7 linked regions of the Homo sapiens genome follow. The protein of the gene in region 1 interacts with the protein of each later gene in a biochemical or structural test. Each region holds a gene or a part of one and is shown in the gene's direction. Other genes may lie near its edges. The genes, in order: AGMAT, TJP3, PARD3B, DLG2, PDZD2, GRID2IP and LDB3.

What was found.
Region 2: the proteins of AGMAT (region 1) and TJP3 interact in a test that uses a peptide from one of them, tested with the Homo sapiens proteins (one large-scale study listed by IntAct).
Region 3: the proteins of AGMAT (region 1) and PARD3B interact in a test that uses a peptide from one of them, tested with the Homo sapiens proteins (one large-scale study listed by IntAct).
Region 4: the proteins of AGMAT (region 1) and DLG2 interact in a test that uses a peptide from one of them, tested with the Homo sapiens proteins (one large-scale study listed by IntAct).
Region 5: the proteins of AGMAT (region 1) and PDZD2 interact in a test that uses a peptide from one of them, tested with the Homo sapiens proteins (one large-scale study listed by IntAct).
Region 6: the proteins of AGMAT (region 1) and GRID2IP interact in a test that uses a peptide from one of them, tested with the Homo sapiens proteins (one large-scale study listed by IntAct).
Region 7: the proteins of AGMAT (region 1) and LDB3 interact in a test that uses a peptide from one of them, tested with the Homo sapiens proteins (one large-scale study listed by IntAct).

Annotation. Positions count from the first base shown.
Region 1 is NC_000001.11:15,582,252-15,586,441, reverse strand, and holds the start of AGMAT (guanidino acid hydrolase, mitochondrial precursor), read left to right. Parts: upstream 1-1,390; 5' UTR 1,391-1,474; coding exon 1,475-1,746; intron 1,747-3,046; coding exon 3,047-3,249; intron 3,250-4,190. UniProt on the Homo sapiens protein: Hydrolyzes linear guanidino acids to form urea and the corresponding amines. Displays specificity for substrates having a negatively charged head group and short chains including taurocyamine, guanidino propanoic and butanoic acids.
Region 2 is NC_000019.10:3,728,884-3,732,383, forward strand, and holds part of TJP3 (tight junction protein ZO-3), read left to right. Parts: intron 1-1,144; coding exon 1,145-1,247; intron 1,248-1,471; coding exon 1,472-1,823; intron 1,824-3,051; coding exon 3,052-3,155; intron 3,156-3,500. UniProt on the Homo sapiens protein: TJP1, TJP2, and TJP3 are closely related scaffolding proteins that link tight junction (TJ) transmembrane proteins such as claudins, junctional adhesion molecules, and occludin to the actin cytoskeleton.
Region 3 is NC_000002.12:204,548,475-204,551,974, forward strand, and holds part of PARD3B (partitioning defective 3 homolog B), read left to right. Parts: intron 1-3,500. UniProt on the Homo sapiens protein: Putative adapter protein involved in asymmetrical cell division and cell polarization processes. May play a role in the formation of epithelial tight junctions.
Region 4 is NC_000011.10:83,458,009-83,461,344, reverse strand, and holds part of DLG2 (disks large homolog 2), read left to right. Parts: intron 1-1,420; coding exon 1,421-1,527; 3' UTR 1,528-3,336. UniProt on the Homo sapiens protein: Required for perception of chronic pain through NMDA receptor signaling. Regulates surface expression of NMDA receptors in dorsal horn neurons of the spinal cord.
Region 5 is NC_000005.10:32,090,131-32,093,630, forward strand, and holds part of PDZD2 (PDZ domain-containing protein 2), read left to right. Parts: coding exon 1-1,045; intron 1,046-2,776; coding exon 2,777-2,894; intron 2,895-3,480; exon of another isoform or gene 3,481-3,500.
Region 6 is NC_000007.14:6,544,962-6,548,461, reverse strand, and holds part of GRID2IP (delphilin), read left to right. Parts: intron 1-3,500.
Region 7 is NC_000010.11:86,731,011-86,734,510, forward strand, and holds part of LDB3 (LIM domain-binding protein 3), read left to right. Parts: intron 1-1,876; coding exon 1,877-1,966; 3' UTR 1,967-3,500. UniProt on the Homo sapiens protein: May function as an adapter in striated muscle to couple protein kinase C-mediated signaling via its LIM domains to the cytoskeleton.

The DNA of each region.
Region 1 (4,190 bases):
ATGGGGTTTCACCATGTTAGCCAAGATGGTCTCATCTCCTGACCTCATGATCCGCCCACCTCGGCCTCCCAAAGTGCTGGGATTACAGGTGTGAGCCACCGCGCCTGGCCTAATGTGCAACCTTTGTGTAGAGGTTGCAACGTAAATGCAAATGTGAGCCTTTTCCATTCAATCTCAACATTTAGAGATCAGAAAAAATAATATATATAATACTGCTAAATGGCTCACATAATTCCATTACAAATCACTTCTTTCTTTCCACGTGTGTTTTTCTTTCCCCTTAGAAATAAAGAGGATGTAACAGGTTCTCTGGCACTGTGACCTTCCTTACAGCTTGCCTGTAAGTCCTTTATTTATTTATTTATTTATTTATTTATTTATTTATTTATTTTTGAGACGGAGTCTTGCTCTGTTGCCCAGGCTGGAGTGCAGTGGCCTGATCTCAGCTCACTGCAAGCTCCGCCTCCCGGGTTCATGCCATTCTCCTGCCTCAGCCTCCCAAGTAGCTGGGACTACAGGCACCTGCCACCATGCCCGGCTAAATTTTTGTACTTTTAGTAGAGATGGGGTTTCACCGTGTTAGCCAGGATGGTCTCGATCTCCTGACCTCGTGATCCGCCCGCCTCAGCCTCCCAAAGTGCTGGGATTACAGGCGTGAGCCACCGCCCCTGGCCTCTAGTCCTTTTTTAACAAGGTTATTTAAAAAGACTTTACTGGCCAGGCGCGATGGCTCACGCTTGTAGTCCCAACTACTCGGGAGGCTGAGGTGAGACGATTGCTTGAGCCCAGCAGTTTGAGGCTGCAGTGAGCTATGATTGTGCCACTGCACTCCAGCCTGAGCAACACAGCAAGACCCTGTCTCAAAATAACTAGCTAGCTAGCTAAGTAGCTAACTAACTTTACTGCTTCTTGAGATTCCTATCCCTGGACATTTAAAAATACATTATTTAAAAAAATGCATTTCCTATTTTTCTGGCTTAGAGAAAGATCATTTTCCTTCATATCTTTCTGGCTTTAAAAATATTACTCTGGGGTGGCTGCTGTGGCTCACACCTGTAATCCCAGCACTTTGGGAGGCCAAGGTGGGAGAATCACTTGAGTCCAGAAGTTGGAGACCAGTCTGGGCAACACAGTGAGACCGTCTCTATAAAAACAAACAATTACTCTGAATGGGAGAAGAGGCTGCTGAAGGCCACAGTGGGGAGCAGGGCGCAGACACCCCTGGCACAGTGCCGGCCAGTGGGCACCCCCAGCCTGACTCTATTTGCCAGAGGCTGAAGTCCAGAGGGGTTGAGGGGAGAGCACGGCAGGTCCTGGGGCCCCTCCCCCGCCTTGATCCTAGGGCGCCCCTGACCTTTGAGCCGGCTCGGGTTCCGGCTCTGGCGCGTGCACACTCGCCTCGCCGTTCGGGACCAGCCAGATCGCGGCGGCCTCGCGGGCGGTTTGGTCGGTGAGGTCTTGGCCGCGCGCGGCAATGCTGAGGCTGCTGGCGTCCGGGTGCGCCCGGGGCCCGGGGCCCGGCGTGGGCGCGCGTCCTGCCGCAGGGCTCTTTCATCCGGGGCGCCGCCAGAGCCGCCAGGCTTCCGACGCGCCCCGGAACCAGCCCCCCAGCCCCGAGTTCGTGGCCCGGCCGGTGGGCGTCTGCTCCATGATGCGCCTGCCGGTGCAGACCTCCCCCGAGGGGCTGGACGCTGCCTTCATCGGGGTGCCCCTGGATACTGGGACCTCCAACCGGCCTGGGGCGAGGTAAGGCCGGAAGGACGGGGGCCGGGTACACGTGGAGGGACTGCTTGCTGGCTGTCGGGCATGGAAAGCACCGAGACAGGCGCCCCTGCTGGCCCCGGGTCGAGTTGGAAGCTGGTGGCCGGCTCCAAAATGCCCCTTATGGTTTGAGATGGTTGATTTACCTGGACCCTCAATAAGCAAACCCCAGGGCTCAACATGGGCGTGGCCTCCCACATCTTAGTGTCATCATTGGTCAAGAAGGGATTTTGGCCGGCCCGGTGGCTCATGCCTGTAATCCCAGCACTTTGGGAGGCTGAGGCGGGCGGATCACGAGGTCAGGAGTTCGAGACCATCCTGACCAACATGGTGAAACTCTGTCTCTACAAAGGTACAAAAAAAAGAAAAAAAAAGCCGGGCATGGTGGCGCGGGCCTGTAATCCCAGCTACTCGGGAGGCTGAGGCAGGAGAATCGCTTGAACCCGGGAGACGGAGGTTGCAGTGAGCTGAGATTGCGCCACTGCGCTCCAGCCTGGGCAACAGAGTGAGACTCCGTCTCAAAAAAAGAAAAAAGAAGGGATTCTGGAGCCTGAACCTTCTCTGTGTCCCCATCCTGGGGCCTTGCTGGGATGGCTGCTGTGGATTCCTCCCCTCTCCTCTCCCCAGCTTACAGTGGCAGGTGACATTGCATTTGAGAGCAGAAACTGGCTGCCCCTTCCCCAAATCTGAAGATGTCACCTGACTCAAGAAATGCTCAAATGAAGGCAATTTTCCTAGGATCAAGTCGGAGGAAGCAAAATTCATCTTCCTAGTTATTGAACGTCAGCAATTTCTGATTCAGCTCAGCAACACTATATCTGACCGTACTGATCTGAATTATGAAAGCCAGCACTTATTAAATGTCTCCTAAGTGCAAGGTGCTTTGCATAGATTACCTCATTTAATTTTTACTACAGTGCAAGGTAAATATTTTACAAATTAGGAAACTGAGACTCAGGTAGATCATGAAATTCACTAATGCCATTTAGTACACTTATTTAGTCTCTTCGATACATAGCCTAGATCGGTGATTCTCAAGTGGGGCGGTTTTGCACTCCGGGGACATTTGGCAGTATCTGGAGGCGTTTTGGGTTGTTACACCTTGGAGGAAGGGTGCTACTGGCACCTAGTGAGTACAGGCCGGGATGCTGCTAAGCATTCCATTATGCAATGCCGCGACACGGAATCATCTGGCCCCAAATTGCTGAGGCTGAGAAGCCCTGGCCTAAGCAAAGCCTGAAATCTCTGCAGATGATGGCTGACAGGATGATTCTTCCTTCTGCAGATTCGGACCTCGCCGCATCCGGGAAGAATCAGTGATGCTTGGGACAGTCAATCCTAGCACGGGGGCCCTCCCCTTCCAGTCCCTCATGGTTGCAGACCTAGGCGATGTGAATGTCAATCTTTACAACCTTCAGGACAGCTGCCGGCGAATTCAAGAGGCCTATGAGAAAATTGTAGCAGCTGGCTGTATTCCTCTGACCTTGGGTAATGTCAGTCTGCAAGAGCCAGAGTAGTTCCCTGCACTCAGGGTTTACTTATCCTGTACTCAGGGGCTTGAGTACAGCTACTTCTCCCCTGCAAGCCACTGCAAATGTGCAGACAGTAGGAAAGAGAGCATTGTAATTCATTTATTTTAATCCCTGGGGAGAGAATATTTCACGTGTGTGTGTATGTGTGTGTGTGAGACAGTCTCACTCTGTTACCCAGACTGGAGTGCAGTGGTGCAATCTCGGCACATTGCAACCTCCACTTCCTGGGTTCAAGCAATTCTCCTGCCTCAGCCTCCCAAGTAGCTGGGATTACAGGCGCCCACCACCATGCCTGGCTAATTTTTGTATTTTTGGTAGAGTCGGGGTTTTGCCATGTTGGCCAGGCTGGTCTTGAACTCCTGACCTCAAGTGATCCGCCCACCTTGGCCTCCCAAAGTGCTGGGGTTACAGGCATGAGCCACCGCGCCTGGCCAAGATGATGTTTCTAATGACTTTATTTGCGAGGAGAACTGCAAAGAGGGTGTTTTTGTCCTGCTCAGGGTCTACATCAACCTATAGGGCAGCTTTCCCCTTATCCTCACCCCTGACCCACTCTCACTTTTTCTCTTGTTCACAAATACTTAAAATGACAGGGATCTTTTCCTAAATATCCAAATTCATTTTTGCCAAGTTAGAGAGCCTAGCCTGCATGGCATAGTGGGAGGAGTGTGGTTTCCCGATGGCATGGTTTGAAGTCTCAGCTGCACTTCTCCCTAGCAATGTTGCTGTATACCGTGCTTGATGCTTCACACCCTCACCTGTAAGATGGGAATGATCACAGTAACACCTACTCACTGCATGATGTGAGGGGCATATAATGAAAGTGCACATGAAATGCCCAGCATCAAGCATGGCATATCTTTTTTTTTTTTCTTTTTTTTTGAGACAGAATTTCAC
Region 2 (3,500 bases), on another chromosome or scaffold:
CTCTACTAAAATTACAAAAATTAGCGGGATGTGGTAGCGTGTTCCTGTAATCCCAGCTACTCGGGAGGCTGAGGCAGGAGACTTGCTTGAACCCGGGAGGCAGAGGTTGCGGTGAGCCAAGATTGCGCCACTGCACTCCAGCCTGGGTGACAGAGTGAGACTCTGTCTCAAAAAGAAAGTAAGTGAGGTGAGGAGAAACCTTTGTGAGCCTGGCACTTTCCAGCTCTGTCAACACAGGGCTCGGACTTGGCAGTAGGACAGTGTCAGAGACTTGGGCCTCACTTCCCTAAGGTACTTCCTGGTCCTTCACAGGAATTCTTGGGGTCATAGTGGCCCCAGAGCCCTTTTGGAACATAAAGTCCTGGAAACCATCGAGTGTTTGAGGGTTTGATGCTTCTTGGAATTATGTTGTTAAAATGGTTCTGGGCCCCAAGTGGCTGACAGGTGATATGGCTCAGCCCAGCCCAGAATTAGGGACCACCAGGTTCAGAGAGAAAGAGCTAGAAAGAAAATATGAAATACAGACAGGAAGAGAGGGAAAGAAAAGCAGAAAGTGGGGATTTGTGGTGTGGGGAGCGAGGAGTGAGAAGATGCCAGGTGTAGCTGTAGCTTCAAGGCCGGGTGCAGTGGCTCACACCTGCAATCCCAGCACTTTGGGAGGCCGAGGTGGGCGGATTACCTGAGGTCAGGAGTTCAAAACCAGCCTGGCCAACATGGTGAAACCCCATCTCTACTAACAAATACAAAAATTAGACGGGTGTGGTGGCGGGCACCTGTAGTCCCAGCTACTAGGGAGGCTGAGGCAGAAGGATCGTTTGAAACGAGGAGGTGGAGGTTGCAGTGAGTTGAGATCATGCTACTGCAATCCAGCCTGGGCAACAGAGTGAGACTCTGTCTCAAAAAAAAAAAAAAAAATGTAGCTTCCACTCTATGATTATAGTAGGTTCTACAATTGGCTCCATTTTACAGGTGAGAAAACGGAGGCCCAGAAGGATAAATGTCTTTGTGAACCTAGGGACACCAATGAATTAGAACCAGGCCTTGTAGATCTGGAGGTTCCAGGGGCACCCCCTCCCCAGGGAGGGCTTGTTACGAGGGTCTCCCCTGCAAAGCCTCCTCCGTAAGACCCGCCCTCCTCTCTCAGGACAGGCGACCACATCGTCATGGTGAACGGGGTTTCCATGGAGAATGCCACCTCCGCGTTTGCCATTCAGATACTCAAGACCTGCACCAAGATGGCCAACATCGTGAGTAGGCAGCCCCTGGCATGGCCAGCATCTCTGACCCCAGCCTGGGTCGTGCCGCTGTGGGGGTTGTAAGCTTCTGAGAGCAAGGAGTCATCTTCTCATCTTACAGTTTGGACATTGAGGCCCAGAGAGAGACTGGTGTCCCCCAGGGCCACCCGGGGGCTGAGCAGAGCCTCCCCCAGCCCTTGCCTGTAGCTGACCCTTCCTGTCCCCTCCTCTAACAGACAGTGAAACGTCCCCGGAGGATCCACCTGCCCGCCACCAAAGCCAGCCCCTCCAGCCCAGGGCGCCAGGACTCGGATGAAGACGATGGGCCCCAGCGGGTGGAGGAGGTGGACCAGGGCCGGGGCTATGACGGCGACTCATCCAGTGGCTCCGGCCGCTCCTGGGACGAGCGCTCCCGCCGGCCGAGGCCTGGTCGCCGGGGCCGGGCCGGCAGCCATGGGCGTAGGAGCCCAGGTGGTGGCTCTGAGGCCAACGGGCTGGCCCTGGTGTCCGGCTTTAAGCGGCTGCCACGGCAGGACGTGCAGATGAAGCCTGTGAAGTCAGTGCTGGTGAAGAGGAGAGACAGCGAAGGTCAGAAGAGGCGGGAGGTCGGACACGATCAGTACTGGACACAGGGCACCGTGGTCGGATGGGCGACGGTTTCAAGTGATTCTCCTGCCTCAGCCTCCCTGGTGGCTGGGACTCCAGGCGCCCGCCACCATGCCTGGCTAATTTTTGTACTTTTGGTAGAGATGGGGCTTCACCATGTTGGCAAGGATGGTTTCGAATTCTTGACCTCAGGTGATTCACCCACCTCGGCCTCCCATAGTGCTTGCTGGGATTGTGGGCGTGAGCCACCGCGCCCAGCCTGGAAGCTACAACTACACCTGGCATCTTCTTGCTCCTCGCTCCCCCCACCACAAATCCCCACTTTCTGCTTTTCTGTCCCTTTCTGCCTGTCTGTATTTCATATATTCTCTCTAGCTCTTTCTCTCTGAACCTGGTGGTCCCTAATTCTGGGCTAGGTTGAGCCATATCACCTGTCAGCCACTTGGGGCCCAGAACCATTTTATCAACATGTCCCCGCGCTGATCCCCGGGACCTCTGTTTAGGCCACCTCACTTAGCAAGAGGGACTCAGCAGATGGGATGGAGTGAAGGACCCTGAGCTCAGAGGTGATCCTGGATGATCTGGGGGGCCCAGTGTCACCACAGGGTCCTTATAAGAGGAGGCCTGGCTGAGTGTGGTGGCTGATGCCTGTAATCCCAGCACTTTGGGAGGCCAAGGCAGGCAGATCACTTGAGGCCAGTAGTTCTAGACCAGCCTGACCACTATGATGAAACCCCATCTCTACTAGAAATACAAAAATTAGCCAGGCGTGGTGGTGTGCACCTGTAATCCCAGCTACCTGGGAGGCTGAGGCACGAGAATTGCTTAAACCCGGGAGGTAGAGGTTGCAGTGACCTGAGATTTTGCCACTGCACTCCAGCCCCGGCGATAGGAGTGAGACTCCTTCTCGAAAAAAATTAAAAAATAAAAAATAAAAATTGAAACAATGATGATGTTATGAGCAATAGAATGCCCTTAGCCTGTGCATGGCAACATCACGAGTGGCACGGTGACCTGGTGTCCCCGCCCCGTGGAGATGTCATTGACACAATCAGATCTCGGGTCCTACGGGCGACATCACTGTTCTCCTTATGATGCCATCAAGGTGTTAGGATGGGAGGGCCCGCACCTGGACTGCTTACAGCAGGAGAATGCTCCCAGGCACCCGTCTCCAGAGTCCTGCCTCAGTTTCCCTCCTCCCCCCTTACAGAGTTTGGCGTCAAGCTGGGCAGTCAGATCTTCATCAAGCACATTACAGATTCGGGCCTGGCTGCCCGGCACCGTGGGCTGCAGGAAGGAGATCTCATTCTACAGGTGAGGCCGGGCTTCTTGTCCTGAGAGCAGGGAGACAAGGCAGGGTTGGGGCGGGCAGTCCCACGGAGTCATACAGCAAGGACAGCAGAACTGGGCCCCAAAGCATTTACCTTCAGTGTTGTTGCTTGTATCTCAAAGGTTGCAGATGGCCAGGCATAAAACCCCCTTTTTCCCCAGCTACTACTAATCCACAGCCAAATGTCGGTTTCTAGTATCCCCATGGGGTTGTCTGTTTCTAATACCCTCTAGCTTTGATGTGCATCAGAGACTCATGTGGGCAGCTGACTCCTGGACCTACCCTAGGTGACTGGATGCTAATGACCCAGTCACCAGGTTTAGGGGAGC
Region 3 (3,500 bases), on another chromosome or scaffold:
GACAAGTAAGTCGTAGATTTGGGTTTAGAAACCAGGAACTGTGTCTTTAGATGTTTGCTCTCAGCCATTAACTGCATAGCCTAGTACTATGTATGTTGTTATGAATTGGAATTTATCCATATTGTTTGTTTTTTAATGCTTGATTTAAAAAGACATTTCCATCTACTAACTGCTATATCACATCAACCTAAAAATAGCAATTTTGCTTCTGGAATAGTGATGGGATATCCACAAGTTTCTCTTAATTATATATTTTATGAGGTCTACATGTAGAAAATCTAGTTTCTGAGGCAAATATTGTAGGATTTGCAAATCAACTATGAAAAATATTCCTCAGTCTAACTACAAATGGGAAAATGGGCAAGATCTTAGACATCCAGGTGGCGAGTGCTATAAAGAACCAAATTTGGTGGGAACATGAATGTAAAGTAAGTCCATTATTTTCTGAGGCACTGAGTAATGTAGATGGGAGAAAGACAGGTTTCAAGATTGAGGATGAAGTTGAGGTTTCTAAAGTTTGGAAAGTAAGTGAAGTCCAAGAATGCCATTCTATATTTCGTGGACAGCGTCTGAGAAGTAACCACTACCTGTTGAGAACAAAGAAAACCTATTTGTGGAATGTTGGGAACCCCCTGAATCAACATCAGATAAGGCCAGAGGTTGATGCGATCCTGAAGATACAGGGGGAGCTTTTGGGAAGGCTTTAATTATGCTCTGAAGTCTGGGCCTTTGAGGTTCCTGCCACCATTTGATGAACTCCATTGGAAACGTGGTGGACTGAGAGGTGAGAACTGTGGGATTGCTTATCTCCGAATCCTGACACTTTATCAGTGTCCCAGCCTCCAAATCCAATTTAGTGAAGTTGTTAGTGGAGAAGTGATTGTCTTCTTATGTGCTTATGGTGGGGATCGTTGAGTAATTAGTTAAATTTATCATCAAAATTATGTGTCACAGGTGAATGGGTAATTGAGCTGTATCCTGCAGGGACTCTCAACCCTGGCTGAACTTCAGTAACCTCTAATTTTCACATTAAACATTTTAAACATTACAAATACCTGTGTCCCTTCCCCCAAGATTCTCATTCATTGGGTTAGGAGTGGGTCCTGGGCATAGGTATTTTAAAAAGCACTCCAGGTGATTCTAATGCCCAGCCAAGGTTGAGAATCACTAATCTACTCTAATCTTTTCGTATGGCTGAACTCATTGGATTTTAAACTCTTTTGATGGCAGATACTGTGTCTTAGATATCTACACACCAATCTGTTATTAAGCAACAGAATAAGCACAATACATGTTATTTGTTAATGGGATTATTATTATGAAGTGCAGGGCTTAAAACCTTGCTGTCTAGGGATTCAAACCTTTTAAGTGTCTTTCACTGATTTACAGAAAGTGAATTTATTACACATTGTTTTTCAAAATGAATTTTGACATTTCTGGCCTTTTCTCATTAAAAAAAAACAAACAAATAAAAGCATGGAATTTGTTAGAGTATTTATTGACCTTTTAGTGCCATTAGGAATACTCCTACTCCTACCCTTAAAGAATTCTTCCTATAGAAGGTGCTCAAATAATTGCTTAAAGTGAACATTCATTTTATATAGACAGTTGTCCCTTAGTATCCATAGGGGATTGATTCCAGGACTTCCCTCGGATACCAAAATCTGCAGATGCTCAAGTTCCTGATATAAAATGCTGCAGTGTTTGCATGTAATCTACACACATCCTCCTGTATACTTTAAGTCATCTCTAGATTATTTATAATACCTAATACAATGTAAAAGCTATTTAAACAGTTGTTATACTATACTGTTTAGGGAATAGTGACAAGAAAATTGTGTGTGTGTGTTCAGTACACGTAGTTTTTTTTCTAAATATTTTTGATCTGGGGTTTGGTTGAATCCGCAGATGCGGAATGCATGGATGCGGAGGGCTGACTGTGTGTGTGTGTGTGTGTGTGTGTGTGTGTGTGTGTATTCACTGAGGATGAAGTGAATAAGGGAAAGGCTTGTCTAGTAATGAGGATGTATAGTGTGTTCTGGGGTTGGAATGAATGAGAAATAAGAGCATTGAATTCGTGGAATAGCAGGCATGCTGGAATTTACAAAGGCCAATTTGTGGCTCTGACTGCGTATGTGAGTACACCCTTTTTTGGAAAGGAAAAATTATATTTGATAGGGTTTTCAAGATGAATCTTTTCTGTATTCAGATATTTTGAATAATATGTTTGTTTTACAAGTTGAGGCAGCTTCCCAGAACTGGGAGTAGTCTGATTAGACTAACAATTCCATTCCCTGATTAACTGTGGGATCGGAATCTAAGAGAATTTGTGTAGTTAGAAGAATCTGGTATGATAATGTGTGGGAGTAGCCTGGAGGAATAGGCTAGAACTCTTGAATTTCTAAACTTTTCAGGCTTTGATGCCTTGTTACCTAAATAGATTTTAAGGTTCTTGTATACATAAGCTAGGCCCAGACTGGATTCCTCAAATGCTTTTCAATTGATTGGGCACTGACTTACTTGAGTGCTTTATTTCCTATTCAGACCTCACTTCTTTACAGCATGTGGACAGAACTGACTCGCCATCAGCATTACACATGCTTCCAACTTGGTTTTGGTTCTGCTACTCAGCTTGCATTGAGCAGCTTCTAAGTTTGCAAACAGAGGGCTCGTGGGGCCTGCTGTGACCCACAGACATATTTTTGTAGGTCTGCTCAGTGTTATATTTTGACTTAGTTGTCAGCATTTAAATATTTTGAGATTTCATGCAAAACTCCAGATTCCTATCTTCTTTGGGGGAAAAGCAAATTGGAAGCTCTGACAATGCTGGGCTTTACTTTCCCACATAGCAACCATCAGTTGGAGCTGAGACACCTCTGCTCTCTTTAGAAAGAATTATTAATGCTTCAGTCTCCATTATTGCTTCCCTAACAGTGAGGATAAGTTATTGTCATCATGCTTGACTGTTTTTACTCTGTGCTTATTTTCTCACTTATGGCCTTAATTCATGGTTGCTATTTGGCCTGCTGGTGGGCATTTGAGTTTGTGCTCCTGGATCTTCTCTCCCCTCCCTCCTCTTTCTCTTTCTCTCCCTCTCACACACACATCCCCACACACCCTCTGTGTATAATCCATGCACATAGGGTTTGCTGAACCGGGTTTGGCTGGTTATCTGAGCTGAGTTAATTGCCCTGTGCGCGATTGGGAGCCACAGCCCTGATTTGTAGCTTGAGGCCCTGTGCTTAATCAAGTGGCTTAGTTAACCAGGAATTCATTCCCAGGGTATTCTGTGCTACAGATTCCCTTTGAAGAAGTTGGGCAAATGGTAATGTTGTCAGATTTTTGTGAGACTATTTTATGAGTGGACTGTTAAAGACATCTGAGGAGTGTGTTAAACATTCAGAGCTTTGGGCCTCTCTTGGAAAATCTAAAGCAGTGTAGTGCAGTAGAACTTTCTGGGATGAAGAGATGTTCTAGATCTGCATCTTTCAAGAGGGCAG
Region 4 (3,336 bases), on another chromosome or scaffold:
CCTTACACCTGGTTCCCGGAGGTTTAAAAACAAGAACTTTCGAGCTGGGCTTATGCCTCTAATCCCAGCACTTTGGGAGGCTGAGGTGGGTGGATCACCTGAGGTCAGGAGTTCGAGACCAGCCTGGCCAACATAGTGAAACCCCCGTCTCTACTAAAAATACAAAAAATTAGCTGGGTGTGGTGGCAGGCACCTGTAATCCCAGCTACTAGGGAGGCTGAGACAGGAGAATCACTTGAACCCAGGAGGTGGAGGTCGCAGTGAGCCGAGATCGTGCTACTGCACTCCAGCCTGGGCAACAAGGGTGAAATTCTGTCTCAAAAAAAAAAAAAAAAAAAAAAAAAACCCAAGAACTTTCTTCCTGGATTACCATATGTGAAGTTAGATGTTTTATTTTTTACCTTATTCAGAATATAGAAAGTGTCAGTGCCTTAGCAGTTTGTAAATATCTTGAATCAGGTAATATTAAGTAATCTTTCTGTCAGTAACCAAGATACGAGCTGTGTTTCATCCTAAAAGAACATCCAGGTAGGAGAAACAAAAGTGTACATTTTGACAGTGGTTTATATTTTGTATACAATACAATAATATATTCTGAGGATTGTTTTTAAATATCTAAATCATCTTTCAGTAGTAATTTATTTTTAAGACCTAGTGTCATATGGATAATACTGATGTGTTTTGGAAATCTTTCTACAAGATAACTTTTGTTCAAATGAGACAATAAAATGTACTTAAATCTACTCCAAGTGACTTAGTGTTTTAGGAGATACACAACTGAGCAGTTTGTTTATATTTCTTCCTGTTTATGTTTCTTATAAATAGTGGACTTATGGTATTCTCAATATGAATAGCTCTGTATGGTAAAAATCTCAAGTTACCAGAGATTTGGGGAATTAATGGGTTTTCCTATTAAGGGCTTTGAGGGTTGGGAGGCTAACTAAACTTCCCTCTAAAATCTTCATTATTTCCTCGGTGTCTACAATATCTGAATTTCTGCTGCTGCCAAAATAAGTAAATATACAGACTGTAAGGCCAGTTTTCTTTTCTAAATAGGGAGCTCTCAGTCTGAAAATTGATCATTGCCCAGCTCAGTGCCTGGCTCAGAGTAGGCACCCATAAAATATTGGTTAAATAGATGAGTGATAAATTGTCCAGTACTACAGACAGACATGTAGAAAGTGCAAAGACTGTGAATCATTTGTTACTGATCCAGGATATCCATTGAAAGCATTTCTTAAAATCATGAATGTAACTTTGCTTATATGAATTTTCTGCTTCTTCTTACTAATGAAAAATGATATGAAGCTTCCTGATGAGTCATCTGCTACTGATTTGAGCCTCCAATGTGTAAGTGATGATTGTTCTTCACCATCCAGGAAATTATTTCTAATTCTGGGTGTGTTTGCTTTTGTTACAGCTATTGTCCAAGGAGATACTTTAGAAGATATATATAACCAATGCAAGCTTGTTATTGAAGAGCAATCTGGGCCTTTCATCTGGATTCCCTCAAAGGAAAAGTTATAAATTAGCTACTGCGCCTCTGACAACGACAGAAGAGCATTTAGAAGAACAAAATATATATAACATACTACTTGGAGGCTTTTATGTTTTTGTTGCATTTATGTTTTTGCAGTCAATGTGAATTCTTACGAATGTACAACACAAACTGTATGAAGCCATGAAGGAAACAGAGGGGCCAAAGGGTGGGACAGAAAAGACATTGCAGTATGAAGGAAGGCTTTGGTTTGCTCAAAGTGCCAGGTGTAGGGATGAACCTCTGACGGGCTTTCTGCCCAAGAGATGAGATGAGAGCCTCCTCACCCCAGCAGATGTCCAGAGCTGATTTAGCTGCAGAGCTCTCTGTGTCTTTTGCTTTAAAGAAAAATTGCCAGCACTCGAACCTCATCAGCCTTCCCATTACCCACATCTGTAATTGGTACACTTTGAATTTTATAACTATGCACATCTTTTGATTTCTTAACAAGCAAATGAAAGAAAGAAGGAAAAAAGAAAGGAATCCCTTTGGAGATGACATACTATCAGGGAAGGATAAGTGTGTAGTTTTTTGACTGGCATCTGCAAAGACAAGAATTTCATAAAATTTGCAAGTGTATGGAGGACTAACCTCACTGACAGGAGGGGATTCCACCTGGGATTAGCTTTATGATTGTTGATTGCCTATTTTGCCATTTATAAACTGAAAGAAGGCACTAAAGATGAGAATAATTTATACAATAAAAATATATTAAATGTATAGAAACAAATTTCTATAGGTTAAAAAAGTTTTGTGAAATATTTTGTAAAGACTAATATTGAAAGACTAAATGTATGCAACATCAGCAGATGATCAAATTCAAGACCTGAAAGTTGCACTCTCCCTTTTGTTGCCAATGATCTGTTAAGAGCATCTGAGTTCCTTTTAAGTCTGACAAAGACTTCTTCCTCACTTACCTCCCTTCCACATTAGTGATACACTCTCATGCAGCACATCCCTTAATGAGTTGCCCTCATGGATATTTTTGGAAGACATTTGGTTAATGCATTTTTTTATGCTGATGGCTTTTCAGAGACAAACTTATGCAAATGATCTAAAGGGAAGTTTTTGCTTTCCTCTAGTTAAATAACCTGAGCCTGCCATGCAAATAGTTGAATAACTTTGTTCCTAGTTACTGACATACAATTCTTAAAGGACCATTTAGCATTTTGGCCAACAATGAGTAATTAGGATTAGTACCTTTTTGTTTTACAGAGTAACTGAGAGTTTTGTAACATCCAGAGATGGTACTAGAGCCAATGAGAGATCTGTTCCTAGATGCACTATTTCTTTGAGGAAGAGAGAGAAGAGAAGTGTCTGGTTGGGGGTGAGGGGGTGCAGACTTTTTTGTTTCTATGTACAGAGCAAAGAGATAGAGTCACAAGGAAAGACAATTAATGACTTTGAGCTCAACCAACTGAACTGCCTTTCTTGGAGCTGCACCTGGACCAAGTTTATTTTTTAACAATTATAATAACGATGATTTAAAAAAAGAAACCTCCCAAAGCCTATAAACTGAACTAGAAGAGTTGGTTTCCCACTTTAGAGTGGATGGCGACATCAGCATTGCTTTTGCCCATGGTGTTTGGGGAGAGACTTTTCAGTGATAATAACCACTCTACTCTGGGTTCTGTGCATGCCCAGACTAAGCCCCATCGCCTTATTTCTGGGGTACATCCAGACCTGGCAGGGATTCTGCCACACTGTGCAGCAAACCAGCATGTAGGCTGGGTAGGAGAGCAAGAGATAGAGCCATCAGAGTGATGGGGCTTCTTCACAGTAAGAACATCGGAGCTTAG
Region 5 (3,500 bases), on another chromosome or scaffold:
AGTTCTCAAGCCATTTTGGACGGGAGGGTCACCCCCCACACAGCCTGGGTCGCTCTCGGGACAGCCAGGTCCCTGTGACAAGCAGTGTTGTCCCCGAGGCAAAGGCATCCAGAGGTGGTCTTCCCAGCCTGGCTAATGGACAGGGCATATATAGTGTAAAGCCGCTGCTGGACACATCGAGGAATCTTCCAGCCACAGATGAAGGGGATATCATTTCAGTCCAGGAGACGAGCTGCCTAGTCACAGACAAAATCAAAGTCACCAGACGACACTACTGCTATGAGCAGAACTGGCCCCATGAATCTACCTCATTTTTCTCTGTGAAGCAGCGGATCAAGTCTTTTGAGAACCTGGCCAATGCTGACCGGCCTGTAGCCAAGTCCGGGGCTTCCCCATTTTTGTCGGTGAGCTCCAAGCCTCCCATTGGGAGGCGGTCTTCCGGCAGCATTGTTTCCGGGAGCCTGGGCCACCCAGGTGACGCAGCAGCAAGGTTGTTGAGACGCAGCTTGAGTTCCTGCAGCGAAAACCAAAGCGAAGCCGGCACCCTCCTGCCCCAGATGGCCAAGTCTCCCTCAATCATGACACTGACCATCTCTCGGCAGAACCCACCAGAGACCAGTAGCAAGGGCTCTGATTCGGAACTAAAGAAATCACTTGGTCCTTTGGGAATTCCCACCCCAACGATGACCCTGGCTTCTCCTGTTAAGAGGAACAAGTCCTCGGTACGCCACACGCAGCCCTCGCCCGTGTCCCGCTCCAAGCTCCAGGAGCTGAGAGCCTTGAGCATGCCTGACCTTGACAAGCTCTGCAGCGAGGATTACTCAGCAGGGCCGAGCGCCGTGCTCTTCAAAACTGAGCTGGAGATCACCCCCAGGAGGTCACCTGGCCCTCCTGCTGGAGGCGTTTCGTGTCCCGAGAAGGGCGGGAACAGGGCCTGTCCAGGAGGAAGTGGCCCTAAAACCAGTGCTGCTGAGACACCCAGTTCAGCCAGTGATACGGGTGAAGCTGCCCAGGATCTGCCTTTTAGAAGAAGCTGGTCAGTTAAGTAAGTATCTGCCCACTACTTTTATTTCAGATAAACTTGTTTCATTTTGGAATAGTTTTAGATTTATAGAAAAGTTGCAAAGATAATGCAGAGTTCCCACTTACTTTTTTTTTTTTTTTTTTTTTTTGAGATGGAGCATCGCTCTGTCGCCCAGGCTGGAGTGCAATGGCGCGATCTCGGCTCACTGCAACCTCTGCCTCCCGGGTTCAAGCGATTCTCCTGCCTCAGCCTCCTGAGTAGCTGGGATTACAGGCGTGCACCACCACACCTGGCTAATTTTTGTATTTTTAATAGAGACGGGGTTTCACCATGTTGGTCAGGCTGGTCTCAAACTCCTAACCTTGTGATCCGCCTGCCTCGGCCTCCCAAAGTGCCGGGATTACAGGTGTGAGCCACTGCACCCGGCCACTTCTTACCCACTCTTCCTAATGTTCACATCTCTCATAACCACGGTCCATTCGTCAAAAGTAAGAAATTAATGTTGGAGCAATACCATTAACTACAGACTTCATTCAGATTTTGCTGAATAAATTCTGCTAATATCGTTTTTCTGTCCCAGGATCCAGGATACTACATTCCATTTTAGTGCCCTTGGTTTTTAATATCACTGCTGGAAAAATAAAAGTGCCTGCAGGGAAACATGTTTACCAAAGTGTCGCTCTGAGGAGAGGCTTCTAGAGGACATGGCACTTAAGCAAAAGCAACATGAGAGGGGCATGCAGAGGAAGAGAGAGCACAGCACGGGGGAATTTGGACTTTGGAGGTGGCTGGAGTTAAACGGAGAATTTCTAACATATTTAAAAATATTTCACTTGAGGCCAGCCGTGGTGGCTCACACCTGTAATCCCAGCACTTTAGGAGGCTGAGCCGGGCAGATCACTTAAGGTGAGGAGTTCAAGACCAGCCTGGCCAACATGGTGAAACCCCATCTCTACTAAAAATACAAAAATTAGCTGGGGATGGTGGCAGGCGCCTGTAATCCCACCTACTTGGGAGGCTGAGGCAGGAGAATCGCTTGAACCCAGGAGGCTGATGTTGCAGTGAGCTGAGATCGCGTCACTGCACTCCAGCCTGGGCAACAGAGTAAGACTCAATCTCGAAAAAAAAAAAAAAAAAGCCAGGCCCAGTGGCTCAGGCCTATAGTCCCAGCACTTTGGGAGACCAAGGCAGGCGGATCACTTGAGGTCAGGAGTTCAAGACCAGCCTGGCCAATATGGTGAAACCCTATCTCTACTAAAAATAAAAAATTAGCCAGGCGTGGTGGCAGGTGCCTGTGATCCCAACTACTCGGGAGGCTGAGGCACGAGAATAGCTTGAACCCAGGAGGTAGAGGTTGCAGTGAGCTGAGATCGTGCCACTGCACTCCAGCCTGGGTGACAGAGCTAGACTCCATCTCAATAAAAATAAAAATATTTCACTTGAACATATGTATTGAATATTTTAAAACATGTCAGAAGTGTCCTGTTAAGCTCCAGCATTGGTCCCATAACTTCTTGAGGGGATCTCTGAATTCATAGCAGTTCCCCTTGCCATTGGCAGTGAATGACATTTCTGTTCAGCACTCAGGATTTATTCTTCCATTAGTTTGGAATGGAAGTTTTGACCAAAAGAGAGCAGAAAATACCTGTTCTCTTTTGTATAGTAGAAAGGAGATCATTTTAAATGCATTCTTATAAAATGAAGAAATTGCTTTTTTCTTTAATGTTCTTCAAATATATTTATATTATTTAGTTTGGATCAACTTCTAGTCTCAGCGGGGGACCAGCAAAGATTACAGTCTGTTTTATCGTCAGTGGGATCGAAATCTACCATCCTAACTCTCATTCAGGAAGCGAAAGCACAATCAGAGGTGAGTGAAACACAGAAAGCTCAGGAACATGAATTGCGGCCGCGTGAGTGCCCAGGTATGTGCTGCCTGCCCAGACAGCCGAGGAGAGCCCGCCCCGAGTCCTGGAGAGGGAGGACTGCCTTGGGTTGCGAGTTTCACAGCTCAGTCTGACTTTGGCCTCACGTGCTGCTAGCCAGCTTCAGAAGCTAGACCTTGTCTTGAATGTTCAGGTGCCAGATGGGTGTCACTGCTGTTTTCATCCCCCAAGTAGCAACTAGTTACCATTCTCCTAACTCCTATGTGTGGAGTTTGTTTGCAGAGAGTCCTCAAAGCAGAGCTAGTCATCTCGGAAATACCTCTCGCCACCTAACTGTGGACATAAACTAGTCAAGGGAGCCACCTGCTGGTGAGAGAAGAGTTACATTGGTGTAGTCCCGCCGTTGCCCTGAAATATGGTGGACCCCTGAACAACATGAGGGTTGGGGCACTGACCTTCGAGCAGTGGAAAATCCACATATAACTTTTAACTCTCCCAAAAACTTAACTACTAACAACCTACTGTTGACCGGAAACCTTACTGATAACATAAACAGTCAATTAACACAAGTTTTGTCAGTTATATGTATT
Region 6 (3,500 bases), on another chromosome or scaffold:
CAATGTGAAATAAGCATGTCATGGAGAATGGGGTACCCATCCCCTCAAGCATTTATCTTTTGAGTTATAAACAATCCATCTACACCGTTTAAGTTTGTATTTATTTTTTTTGGAGCCAGAGTCTCGCTCTGTTGCCCAGGGAATACAGTGGTACGATCTCGGCTCACTGCAACCTCCGCCTCCCGGGTTTAAGCAATTCTCCTGGCTCAGCCTCCCAAGGAGCTGGGATTACAGGCCCCCACCACCATGCCTGGCTAATTTTTGTATTTATAGTAGAGACACGGTTTCACTATGTTGTCCAGGCTGGTCTTGAACTCCTGACCTCAGGAGATCTGCCTACCTCGGCCTTCCAAAAGTGCTGGAATTACAGGTGTGAGCTACTGCACCTGGCCTAAGTTATTTTAAAATGGACAATTAAGTTATTATTGGCTATAGTCACCCTGTTGTGTTATCAAGCTCACAGACTTTTCCTCCGTGGAAGGGAATCTGCTCAGTTCTGCCCCAGCAGCACTTGGCCATGGGGTTTGGGAGGTCAGGGAGCCTGGAAACTTTGTCGGAGTTTGACTATTGCAGAAATGCCTCCCAGCCCACTGCCCAGGCATCAGGTCCCCACCCACTCTGGCCTCCTTCAGTGCCCAAGCTTGGTCCAGTCCTAACCCCTTCCAAATTAACCCCCTCAGGAGTGTCTCCTCCATCATGTACCCTAGCCTGATCCCCTGAATGGGCTTTTCTGACCCTGAGTAGACCAGCCTCTGTGGCCAGATACACACACTCGCATACACACAGGACTCAACTCCAGCTTCCCTACATCACCAAAGTCCAGATCTTCCAAAGCTGTGACTTTCTTCCTGTACCCACAACAGGCTCTGCTGCTATAACAAACAAACCCAACATTTTTTATTGTTGTTGTTTTTGAGACAGGGTCTAGCTCTGTTGCCCAGATTGGAGTGCAGTGGTACAATCATAGCTCACTACAGCCTCCAACTCCTGGGCTCAAGTGATCCTCCTGCCTCAGCCTCTCTAGTAGCTGGGACCACAGGTGTGCACCACCACACCTGGCTGATTAAGAAAAAAAAAAAAGACTGGGGAGATGAGGTCTTGCTATGTTGCCCAGGCTAGTCTCAAACTCCTGGCCTCAAGCAATTCTCCTGCCTCAGCCTCCCAAAGTGCTGGGATTATAGGTGTGAGCCACTGTGCCTGACCCAAAATCAACAACTTAGTGCGTTTGCACTACAGAAGTTTACTTTTCACCCACAGAGTCCTCTAGGGGGTCAGTAGACTTTCTAGGGTGGCTTGATGTCCATACGAGGTCTCAGCATTTCAGACTCCTCCATCTCTATGTGAAGCTTCAGGGTTCCCTATGGAAGAGGAAGAGAGCTTGGAAAATTGTGCATCTCCTCTTAGAACAGCACCTGTCCTCAATGCTCATTGGGCAGAACTAGGTACACTGCTCCTCCCTAAGGATGCTGGGAAATGTAGTCTAATGTGTGTCCAGGAAAGAGGGAAGACCTAGAAATATTGGTGAGTGCGAGTAATGCCTGCTACAATCCCAGATCACCTGCCATGGAGCCAAAGGTCTATCCCAGACTCCATCTAATCCCTGCAGAGTTGGAAGGGGGCACGTTCAGAGCTCCAAACAGGGCAGGATGCAAGAGAAGACCTGCCCAGGAGCAGGGCTGGGCAGCAACCCGCTGAGGGTAGAATCCGACAGGCTGCCCAGGCCAGCTGCAGTGTGTTTTCTGGCAAGGAGGAACGGGGAAGTGGAGGATTTTGGTTAGGGCTCGCTGGGCACCCACAAAAGCTGAGAGTGAATCTCCAAAAATGACTTCCTCTGGAAGATGAAGGGCCTCCGTGGAGCCCAGTTGGTTTTCTATCTTTTTTTTTTTTTTTTTGAGACAGAGTTTCGCTCTTGTTGCCCAGGCTGGAGTGCAATGGCGTGATCTTGGCTCACTGCAACCTCCGCCTCCTGGGTTCAAGCAATTCTCCTGCCTCAGCCTCCCAAGAAGCTGGGATTACAGGCATGTACCACCACGCCCGGCTAATTTTGTATTTTTTTTAGTAGAGACAGGCCAGGCTTGGTGGCTTGGCTGGGCACGGTGGCTCACACCTGTAATCCCAGCACTTTGGGAGGCCGAGGCAGGCAGGTCACCTGAGGTCAGGAGTTCAAGTAGAGATGGGGTTTCACCATGTTGGTCAAGCTAGTCGCAAACTCCTGACCTCAGGTGATCCACCTGCCTCTGCCTTCCAAAGTGCTGGGATTACAGGCATGAGCCACTGCGCCAGACTGGTTGGTTTTCAATCACCAGCCCTCCAGTTCTCGCCTGCGCTTTCTGCCTGCCCCAGTTTTTCCTCCTTGAAGTGGCTGATATTTAATAGAAAATCCATTAGTGTCCCGTGATGATACCTCATGCTTAGATGTAGGCTGAGAACATCTGGGTAATAACTGACACCGAAACCGCACTGTAGCACGGGCCCCAGGAGGGAGGAACTATTTTTTCCTCTTTCTTACATAAAACATCTCTGCAGCCAGCCATGTTCTCCTTTGAATTGAGGTTGCTGCTGACTTTGATTTCCAAACTGGCAACCTTCCCCAGCACGGCGCGTGCGTGGGGAGGGGGCGGCTGGTGCTGCCAGCCTGGCCCACTCACAGGGAGGGAAACAGTGGTGAGCTGGGGCCTGCAGGAAGTGCAATGCAAGGCTGCTTTTTGATTCAGTCCCATCCACATTCTCTGAGTGCCTAATATGTGCCAGGCGCTGTGCTTGGGGCTGGACAAGCATGAGACCCCGGATCATCACACCTGGGTGGGGGAGACAGACGGTTACACAGACTCATGGTGCATCTGTGCTAGGATTCAGACGTGTACAGAACGTGGCCTCTGACTGGAAACCCTCGAAGCTTCCCGCTACTTCTCCTCCCCTTTTGGAATCATCTAGAAAGCGGGTGGATATACAGTTCCAGAGTTCAAGAGCGAGCTCTCGGCTGAAGATCGAGGTCTGAGAGTCACTGTCTGGGGTTCTTCGCCAGAGCTGGGTCGTGGAGAGCCTCAAGTGCAATAGTGAACTGCAGTGGCAAAGGGCAGTGGTACAGAAACAGCACGTGTAGACGGCTCCAGACTACAGAAGGGAGGAGAATGAGCAGCTTTCAGGATCAAAGGAGGATTGTCTTTTATTTATTTATTTATGGAGACAGGGTCTTGATCTGTCACCCAGGCTGGAGCTCAGTGGTGTGATCATGGCTTACTGCAGCCTTGATTTCCCGGGCACAAGAGATCCTCCTACCTCGGCCTCCCAAGTATCTGGTAGCTGGGAATACAAGCGTGCACCACCATATCTGGCTAACTTTTTACTTTTTCTTTTCTTTCTTTTTTTTCTTTTGAGATGGAGTCTGTCTCTGTCACCCAGGCTGGAGTGCAGTGGCGCGATCTCGGCTTACTGCAAGCTCCGCCTCCCGGGTTCACACCATTCTCCTGCCTCAGCCTCCCGAGTAGCTGGGACTACAG
Region 7 (3,500 bases), on another chromosome or scaffold:
TGAGTATGGTGGTGGGCGCCTGTAATCCCAGCTACTAGGGAGGCTGAGGCAGGAGAATTGCTTGAACCCGGGAGGCAGAGGTTGCAGTGAGCTGAGATCGCGCCACTGCACTCCAGCCTGGGTGACAGAGTGAGACTCCATCTCAAAAAAAAAAAAAAGAATTTCATCTCTTTTGTTTTTTTGTATATTTCTCTGCATACTTTTCCATATCTACCTTTTTTTTTTTTTTTTTGAGACGGAATCTCGCTCTGTCGCCCAGGCTTGGGTACAGTGGCATGATCTCAGCTCACTGAAACCTCCGTCTTCCGGGTTCAAGTGATTCTCCTGCCTCAGCCTCCTGAGTAGCTGGGATTACCAGTGCGCACCACCACACCCGGCTAATTTTTGTATTTTTAGTAGAGACAAGGTTTCACCATGTTGGTCAGGCTGATCTCAAACTCCTGATCTCGTGGTCCTCCTGCCTCGGCCTTCCAAAATGCTGGGATTGCAGGCGTGAGCCACCATGCCTGGCCCATCTCTCTTTTTAAATGGTGGCATTCCATTGGAAAAATACACCATGAAAATTTACTGAATCATCTTCCTATTGAGAGAAATTTTACTAGTTTTCAGTTTCTAGTTGAGCACAGGTTGTTTTGTTGTTCTGCAGAGTTGCTTCTGCAGGATAAAATTCTCTAGCGTGGCATTACTGGGTTACAGGGTAGTCACATCTCAATGGTTCTTGTTCAACATGGCCAGATTCCCTATGGAACACTGAGCTCACTCACATGTCTCTAGCAGTGCACGAGTAGGCCTTGTTCCTTTTTGGCATTGCTGATTTTTGATTGAATACTTTTTTTTTTTTTAAGCTTTTTGGCTACAGGCATATTAGGTTAAAGGTGACAGGCCATTGAGGTTTTTTTGTTTTATTTGTCTTGCTAGATTAATATGTGTCTAGTGGTATCTCAGGGCAGTTTTTCTTGTAATTTTTTTAACTAATTTTCTTTTCTTTCTTTCTTTTTCTTTTTTTTTTTTTTTGGTAGAGACAGAGGCTCACTATGTTGCCCAGGCTGGTCTCAAACACCTGGCCTCAAACGATCCTCCTGCCTTGGCCTTCCAAAGTGTAGGGATTACAGGCATCAGCTACTGCGCCTGGAGTCAGGGGAGTTTTAATTTGCTTTTTCTTTAATTATTAGTGAGTACAATCTTCTCTGATGTGTTTGTTAGTTTACTAATGATTTTCTTTAGACGTGAATCCTCTCTGTGGTATATTGACTTGTGAACTTGTATTGACTCTATTCATGCTATTTTAGATAGCATGAATTGGTCAGCTTCATAGTGTATATTTTCTCTATTCCATTAAATTTAATTAATTTCATTTGATTTTATTCTGTTCTTCAGGAATCTTAGTTTTTATATAGTCCAACTCATGTACTCTGCTTCCGTCATTAAGAATTCATAGTGGGAGAAATAGGCTGTTGCCTTTTCTCTAGAATGCATGGGGCAAGGCTGTTTGTTTGTTTGTTTGTTTGCTTTAGACAGTCTTGCTATGTTGCCCAGGCTGGAGTGCAGTGGCACAATCACAGCTCACTGCAACCTCTGTCTCCCGGGTTCAAGAGATTCTTCTGCCTCAACCTCCCGAGTAGCTGGGATTACAGGCACATGGCAACATGCCCCTGGCTAATTTTTGTATTTTTAGTAGAGATGGAGTTTCGCCATGTTGGCCAGGCTGGTCTTGGACTCCTGACCTCAAGTGATCTGCCTGCCTTGGCCTTCCAAAGTGCTGGGATTACAGGACTGAGCCACCACGCCTGGCCAGGGCGTTTTCTTAAAAAAGTGATTGAAATCTGCTCATGCCCTGTGCCACGTGGGTCTCACGCAGGTCTGTTCTCTGCTCCAGGTCTGCCATGTGAATCTGGAGGGGCAGCCGTTCTACTCCAAGAAGGACAGACCCCTGTGCAAGAAGCACGCACACACCATCAACTTGTAGGCGGCCAAGGCCGCCTGTGCTGACGAGGCCCGGAGCTGCTCCTGCTGCTGGCAACAAAGGATTCGGGAGGCTGATGTTTCTTCTGAGGGGAATGGGGAGAGAGAGGAAGCGACTGAGCCCTTTGGAAGTATAATTTTAGGTTTTTTCTTCTGTACACAGATCGTGCATTTGCATAGTTCAGACTAGGAGCCAAATGAAGACTCAAAACCAAGCTAGTTATTAATCCAAGACTGGAATTGTACTTCAGACATTTAGAGCAGAATTCCAAGAACTCAAAAGTGAAAAGCAACAAGCAGCTTTCCCAAAGCGATACACTTGCTTTGGTCACCAGAGGAGGACAGAGCTTAGAGCAGCTGTGGAGAATCTGAAGCATTCTGCGGAGTTCTTAAGCGCTCCCCTGGCAAACAAATTGAAGTGCCAAACAGCACTCGCTGCAGGGTATTTTTAGAGTCATAGCTGAGAGCTTGTTAGCTAAGACCCATTGGGCTTTCCTCACCAAAAAAGGAAGTGTTATTCCATTACTAGCGTCATGGAGCTACCTCTGCGCATCAGACTTCAGACCTTGAACAAACTTAAAACCTTCTTGGGAGCCCGGACGTCCAAAGAGATGTCTTCTGGGAGCCACTGGGCAATTGCCAGGGCTCCAGGAAGGGCTCTGGCTCAGGTTGCAGACAGCTGAGAAAAGATGGCCCTGTCAGCCACCCTCTCTCAGTCTGAAACATCCAACATCCCCAGAAGGCTTAGCTCCTTTTTGAATTGTGATGGGAAAGTAGAGTTGGGTTTTTCCAGTTTTGCTCTGTGGTGTGTGAGAGATTTTTTTAAAGGCTTTGGGTTGTCTTTGGCCTTTGTTTAGCTTTAAGGGTTCGTTAGCATGAGTGTCCAGTCGTGTGCATGAATTTCACCCCAACTTGTGACTGCTCACTTATGACGTCTCCCCCAGTACCCTCCATCTCAAATAGGCTTGGTGGCCTGTGGAAAAGAAGAGAGACAGAGAGACAGTGTCTGAAACAGGATGGCAGAATAGGCTCACATGCCCAAACTCTGGGTGGGGAAGAGGAAACTTACTTTCTGCCACCCTCAGTAAGAACACACGAGGAGGCAGGACCTCCCACCTTCAGGTCTGCATCATCCTTTTCAAATGTTCCTTTAAATGCAGCACACTGAGTTTGTACAATTGTGTTAACTGCTGGAAGGGACAGATGCACTGATATATATGCATTTGCTGTTTTGGCCAATATTTTGAAAATGTATGAGCTGAGTTGATCTAGCTATTATTTAAGTATTTATTGAAGTAGAGGGGCCTTCAAACTACTTTATACTAGTGATAGTTTGAGTTAGGTAAGCATCTTAAAGCTGTTTGGTGATAAAGAAGGCAGCTTAGATTCTGTGGTTGGAAACAGTGTAGTCGCTTCCCTTTTTAGGAAGCCCTGTTAATATGCTCATTGAAAACATGGCATTGAAGCAGGCACTTGCGTGGATGTTTCTCACTTGAGCACGATATTTAGGCTCTCTTCCAACTCACTCTATTCTGTCC